Homo sapiens: one gene and its partner. The protein of the gene in region 2 interacts with the protein of the main gene of each other region in a biochemical or structural test. Each region holds a gene or a part of one and is shown on either strand. Other genes may lie near its edges.

What was found. Proteins that work in one complex are often made in the same cells at the same time.
Region 1: the proteins of PLA2G4A (region 2) and SIRT2 form a complex in vitro, tested with the Homo sapiens proteins (one study listed by BioGRID).

Annotation. Positions count from the first base shown.
Region 1 is NC_000019.10:38,889,619-38,893,118, reverse strand, and holds part of SIRT2 (NAD-dependent protein deacetylase sirtuin-2), read left to right. Parts: intron 1-2,974; coding exon 2,975-3,016; intron 3,017-3,157; coding exon 3,158-3,264; intron 3,265-3,373; coding exon 3,374-3,430; intron 3,431-3,500. UniProt on the Homo sapiens protein: NAD-dependent protein deacetylase, which deacetylates internal lysines on histone and alpha-tubulin as well as many other proteins such as key transcription factors.
Region 2 is NC_000001.11:186,940,449-186,943,948, reverse strand, and holds part of PLA2G4A (cytosolic phospholipase A2), read right to left. Parts: intron 1-3,500. UniProt on the Homo sapiens protein: Has primarily calcium-dependent phospholipase and lysophospholipase activities, with a major role in membrane lipid remodeling and biosynthesis of lipid mediators of the inflammatory response.

The DNA of each region.
Region 1 (3,500 bases), on a different chromosome or scaffold from region 2:
CTGCCACCGAGAGAGCACCTTTTCCCAGTAGTTCAAACCAAACAGCAGAGATTGGCTCCCATTGGTCCCGGTTGAGTCAAATGCCTGCCCCCATGCCTCTGATTGGCCAGACCTGGGTCGCTTCTCCATTGCTGAGTGAATTACTGCACTCTGATTGACCAGGCCTGTTTCATAAAATGAGGATAATGATTATAGTATCTAACTCATAAGGTTATTGGCGGGGCTAAATAAATTAATATAGGACCAGGGGCAGTGGCTCATGTATGTAATCTCAGCACTTTGGGAGGCCATCGTGGGAGGATCACTCAACGCCAGGCGTTCAAGACCAGCCTGGGCAACATAGTGAGACCCCCCCGCCATCTCTACAAGAAAAAAAAAAATAGTCAGATATGGGGGCGTTGCCTGTAGTCTCAGTTACTCAGGAGGCTGAGAAGGGAGGATTGTTTGAGCCCAGGAATTGGAGGCTGCAGTGAGCTATGATGGCACCACTGCACTGCAGCCTGGGCAACACAGTGAGACTCTGACTCTAAAAAAAAATAAAGTAATAAAATTTAAAAGATAAATAAAAATGCAAATGCTTAGAGCAGGGCCTGGAACATAGCGAGAGCTGTGGCAGGGTGTGCCGTGGTTATTACTACAGGAGGCTTATTTCAGATGTGGTGGATAGGTGTCCACTTACTGAGTCAGCATGAAATTTATATTTCTTTTTCTTTTTTTTTTTTTGAGATGGAGTCTTGCTCTGTTGCCCAGGCTGGAGTGCAGTGGCACAATCTCAGCTCACTGCAACCTCCACCTCCCGGGTTCCAGCAATTCTCCTGCCTCAGCCTCCCGAGTGGCTGGGATTACAGACGCACACCACCACGACTGGCTAATTTTTTGTATTTTAGTAGAGACAGGGTTTCACCATGTTGCCCAGGCTGGTCTTGAACACCTGAGCTCAGGCAATCCACCCTCCTCGGCCTCCCAAAGTGCTAGGATTAGAGGCATGAACCACCCGTCCCGGCCTGAAATTTATATTTCTTGCCACAAGTTGAGGTCACCAAAGTCTGAGAAACCAGGCCCTTGGCAGTCCTCAACTAGAACAATCGACCCTTTGTGGTTCCTGAGCAGCCTTTTGTTGAGGACATCTTCTCCTGTGTCCCTGTCCTCCAGCTGCCACTGTCTCCCTCCTCAGGCAGCCAGGCCTGCTGCCCTGAGCCTCCCTCTCCTGCGGCAGGCGAGCAGCTGTCTGCAGCCATCTTTTAGCCTGGGCAGGCCCCAAAGACAACACAGGCAGTGGCTACAAAGCATTTGTTCCTTGTGTCCTCCTGCACCTGGATTCTGGGGTAATTGGCTCATGAGGGTGCCCAGGAGGAGATAGTAATGAAAAATAACAATTAGTTGAGGCCGGGAGTGGTGGTTCAGGCCTATAATCCCACCATTTTGGGAGGCTGAAAGCAGGAGGATCGCTTGAGGCCAGTAGGTCAAGACTAGCCTGGGCAATAAGCGAGACCCCCTCTCTGCAAAAATTTAAAGGTGAGGCTCCAACCCTCACCTCACTGCTCTAAAAATTTATTATTATTATTATTTTGAGACAGAGTCTCACTCTGTTACCCAGGCTGGAGTGCAGTGGCGCTATCATGGCTCACTGCAACCTCTGCCTCCCGGGTTCAAGCGATTCTCCTGCTTCAGCCTCCCGAGTAGCTGGGATTACAGGCGCGTGCCACCACGCCCGGCTAATTTTTGTACTTTTAGTAGAGACGGGGTTTCACCATGTTAGCCAGGCTGGTCTTGAACTCCTGACCTCAGGTGATCTGCCCCCCTCGGCCTCCCAAAGTGCTGGGATTACAGGAGTGAGCCACCGGGCCCGGCCCTAAAAATTTCTTTTTAACCACTTAATTGAGGCTTCACTATTTGCCAGGCACTGGGCTCAGCACTTTACAAGTGCCCTATTATTTGATATTCACATTATACCTGTAAGATCATTATGGAAGTGATCTGAACAGAGGAGGAAAAGGAGGCACAAAAAGGTCACGACTCAGTGTAGGGTCAAACAGTTGCCAAGTGGCAGAGCCAGGATTTGACCCCAGGTCCCCTGAATCCAGACCACATGTAGCCACCACTGGATTCAACCAGGCCTGGCCTGATGGCATCTCAGAGCTGAAGCTCAGGGCTGAAGCTGTGGCAGGCTTTGTGCTCTGTTCACCTTTGCTGTCCTCCCTTGGACAGGGCATCCCAGAGGCATCTGATCCACAGCATATCACACTTGTGCCTGTCTATCAGCTGATGGGCAGATGCCAGGGTACTATGGCCTGGTGGCTACTCACCAGCCACCAGCTAGCTATTTCTGCTCAGCCCAGGGTTCTTATCCTAAAGTGGCCTTTTCTCAAGTCCAAGTTGGTGTGATTTCCAACAGTGGATTCTCTTTTTTTTTTTTTTTTCCTTTTTTTGAGATGGAGTCTCGCTCTGTCACCCAGGCTAGAGTGCAATGGCATGATCTCGGCTCACTGCAACCTCCGCCTCCCGGGTTCAAGTGATTCTCCTGCCTCAGCCTCCCAAGTAGCTGAGATTACAGGCACGTGCCACCACGCCTGGCTAATTTTGTATTTTCAGTAGAGATGAGGTTTTGCCATGTTGGCCAGGCTGGGCTCAAACTCTTGACCTCAGATGACCCGCCTGCCTCAGCCTCCCAAAGTTCTGGGATTACAGGCATGAGCCACTGCACCCAGCCCAACACTGGATTCTTTATCCGCTGGCTGGCTCTTCCGCAGTTGATTGTGTGACTTCTTCCCCTATCTGAGCCCCAGTTTTCTCATTTATAAAATGGGGATGTTAACACCATCCCCGTCTAGATGATTGGAAGGCCCGTCATGCATCTGAGATGCTTGCCCCAGGGCCTGGCATGGAGTAAACGATGTCAGGGGCTGTGATGGGTGGTGCTATCGTAGGGACTGAGCAAACGGTGTCATATGGTGCATAAGTTCCTCTCCTCCAGGTCGCAGAGTCATCTGTTTGGTGGGAGCTGGAATCTCCACATGTAAGTAACCCTTCTCCCCCAGCAGCTACCCCCAGGAACTGGGGAGTCCCTCCCAAGGGCTGGGGAGGAGCCCTATCTGAGCCCTGTCCTGGGAGGGTTAGTATGGTATAGACCAACTGCTCCCTGACCCCCCTTTCCTAGCCGCAGGCATCCCCGACTTTCGCTCTCCATCCACCGGCCTCTATGACAACCTAGAGAAGTACCATCTTCCCTACCCAGAGGCCATCTTTGAGATCAGCTATTTCAAGGTTTGTGCTCCCCCAGGAAGGGGCGTCTGTGAGGGGTGGGGATGGGGTCACCTGGCTCCAACCCTCACGCTACCTGGGGCATCTGGCCCTCTGGCTGTCTCTCCTACAGAAACATCCGGAACCCTTCTTCGCCCTCGCCAAGGAACTCTATCCTGGGCAGTTCAAGGTGAGATCTTTGTTTTGCAGGGGGCGAAACAGGAAGGGTTGGGGGAGGGCACGCATGAGAAGCCCCGCCA
Region 2 (3,500 bases):
TCTGTTTTTATTGGTCACCAAAGTGACTTTTTCAAAAACACTACATAAATAATTTTATTGCCCTGCACAAAAGCATTAACTATTTCCATTATCATCAAAATCAAATAAAAATATTTCTGTCTGGAATTAAAATCATTCCATAACTTGGGACTATTGGTGCCTCCAAATACAACACCTTTTCTTCACCAATGTGTGCATAAGTCCTAGACTAGTTGTTTTTTTTAATAGTGATGCCCAAAACATAACTCTGGCTTCCCTTCTGAGCATTTTCTCATATTGTTTCCACACAAAGGTATCTTTTTACCCGTACTTGATAGATCCTTCTACATTCGACTTAAATCCAAGTTTCATCACCCTTTCTTACAACTATACTAAATCTCTATGACATCTCACCCTTATGTCAGGTCTACACACTTATGTCAGGTCTAGGTATATTATAGGAATTTTTCCATGCTTTATTTTTGTCTCTTTCAATAGGATTATAACTTTCTTGAGGAAAAATACTATATTTGTACTTCTAAAGTGTCTGTCAAAAAATTTAGCATGATGCTAAGTTCATAACCATAAGTTGTAATCCATAAATGCAGTTTATTCACCAGTGGAAATTTTTAAATGAACGTTTTAAGTCCTTTCAGCAATGTGATGTAGTGGAGGAGTCAGGAATTTCTAACAGTTTAAACACCAATGTTTATTTGTTGAAAATTTCCAAGAAATTTCTAAATGAAAGGTGTGTTTAAAATTATTCCAAGAGGAAGGGAAAATATTATCCGGTATTGTTGAAGTAAAATTGTTAATAAAGCTTCTGTAAGCTAATTTGATTATTTGACTTTTAAAAATATAATTCAGAGACTATCTCAACTTTTTCTTCTACACAGCCACTTTCAATCTAAGCATATATTGGAAGAATAAATTACAGACGTGTCTCTATTCTTTTTTTCCCAGTAACTCAAGTAAAGCTACTTGAACACTCAAGACATGTACCTTAAGATGTCTTATCTGGGTACAAGATTCATATAATTAATGTTTAATGATTTTGTCTAAATCTGTTGGAAGACACAGCTCAACCCGCCTTATGACAGAAGCTTAACAATGAAGGTTAATGATGCACCACTCATCTCAGTAGCAGTACTGCAGTGAAGCAGATGTCAAAAGAAGACACATCCAGGTCCAAAGACTACTAACTGAATATAAAACAGCATTTTTTCAGTCTAAAAGAACCCAGAATATCCACTCACCCAAATATTATTTATTCTTTAATTATTTTAGTTAAGTTTTCTTGGAAAATGGCTATTGACTAAAAATTCAGAATAAAATATAACCACCGTGAAAAGTCCAGAACAATCATGACAATAAAAACAAACTTTTATATTTGTATGCCTCTTTATAGTTTTCAGTCTCATCTTATGCATATTTCATATTATTGCCTTAATAGCTCTGGAAGATAAATCTTAGGGTTAATATATTTTTTAAAATAAGGAGGAAAATAAGAATCAGAGATTACATGACTAGCCTGAGGTATTCAGCTTAGAAGTATTGTAAGACAAGGCTTTTAAATTAGAATGTAGTGTTCTTTTGACCATGTAATTCTTTCTGGGTGAAGGATGATTTATTTGGCCATGCAAAAATCTGACTAGCATGCAAGTGTTATAGATCAAACAATTCCAAAAATTTCAAAGCTCCACAAGATAATAGCTATGGCTGGGGGGAAGCAATTTCATTATGGCGCTTACTTTTCTATGTAATAAAGTCTCAACTCTCTACTATGAACCCCATTATAGCCCAAGATGTGTGGTTCCTTGTTGCCATTGAGCACACCTGAGTTATCCCTGACCCTGCTACATGCCCCCTTCCACAATCCAATAATTAAATGTGCCTTTCATATTCAAATCCTATTAATCTTTAAGATCTAGACCTCTGACTTTTCTTATACAGCTTTCACAGAACATTCTAAATTGTTAAAATGTACTGGAAACTTATTATTAGGGCCTGCCATTGTTTACATACTTTGTCTCATTTTTTGGCAAAACATTGTGAGAAGTCTCATCTTCACTTAACAGATGAGAAAACTGGGTCTAACGTAGATTATATAACTTGGTCAAAATGACAGTGTATAGTAACAGTTCTGTACTCTCTTGTGCCTTAACTTCTTTAATAATTATTGTAAATTTTCCAAACAGACTATAAGGTCTTATAGGGTAGGGACAATATATTGTGGTGAGGAAAGAGGAATTCATCCTTAGCGCCCGGCAGACTGCTGCAATCTATATAGACGGTAATCACTATGTACACATCAGAAGTTAGTATGGTAAAATAAAAAGAACAAAGGATTTTTGAAACCAATTTCAGCACTGCTAATTACGTTCTAAGCAGCAATGTGCAAATTATTTAATCTTTATGAGGTTTTCGTTTTTCTTCTGTTGAACAGAGCTAAAAATACCTACTCCCCGGTTGTAGGAAACATGGAATAAAATAGCAAATGTGATAAGTGCGTTCTGAACCATAAGCATGACAAACATTTTAGCCAATATTTTAATAAACATTTGAATGAATGGATCCCATGTGTGCTAATTTTTGTAAACTATTCAAAATTTTTGTCTGAGAGGCAGTTGAGAGAAAAGTGAAAATTACAAAAGGATTCTGGATATATATGTGCCAATTACACACCACTCATGATGGTTTTTTAAGCTCATGGGGTGTCTGAAGTCACTGAGATAATTTTCCTAAAAATAGAATGAAGCCCACCAGCTACAGTCAGAAATGCTATTGTGCTGCAGACTAACACTGACAGAGGCCCCCCCAAAAGTATGCTGTTGTGCCCTTTTTTTTTTTTTTTTTTGAGACGGAGTCTCGCTCTATGGCCCCGGCTGGAGTGCAGTGGCATGATCTCGGCTCACTGGAAGCTCCTCTGTCTCCCGAGTTCATGCCATTCTCCTGCCCCAGCCTCCCGAGTAGTGTTGTGCACTTTTATAGTATCCAAGAAGCAAAGCTTGAGAAGAAACAAGTGTTCACTCCTGAGATTTTAACAAAATGAGGCATTGGTTCATCAACCACTACAAATATACACTAGAACTTTTTAGGTGCTGAATTATAAAAATTACAACAGCACTTTGAATGGCAAACATACAGTTGGCTCTATATACCCATGAGTTCAGCAAATTCTATCAACTGCAGATCAAAAATATTTTTTAAAAATTCCAGAAAATGTAACGTTGTTGACATGTACTGTTTGATCTGTACTAAACATGTACAGACTTTTGTTCCTTGTAATTATTCCCTAACAATATAACAACTATTTACCTAGCATTTACACTGTATTAGGCATTGTAAATAACCTAGAGATGATTTAAAGTATACATAAGAATGTGTGTAGGTTACCTGCAAACACTGTGCCATTTTGTATGTGGGGCTTGAGCAGCCACTGAATTTGGTATCCACAGGGGGGCCTGGAACCAATCCCCCATGAGTACCAAGGGAGGACTGTAGATCATATTACCCAATTA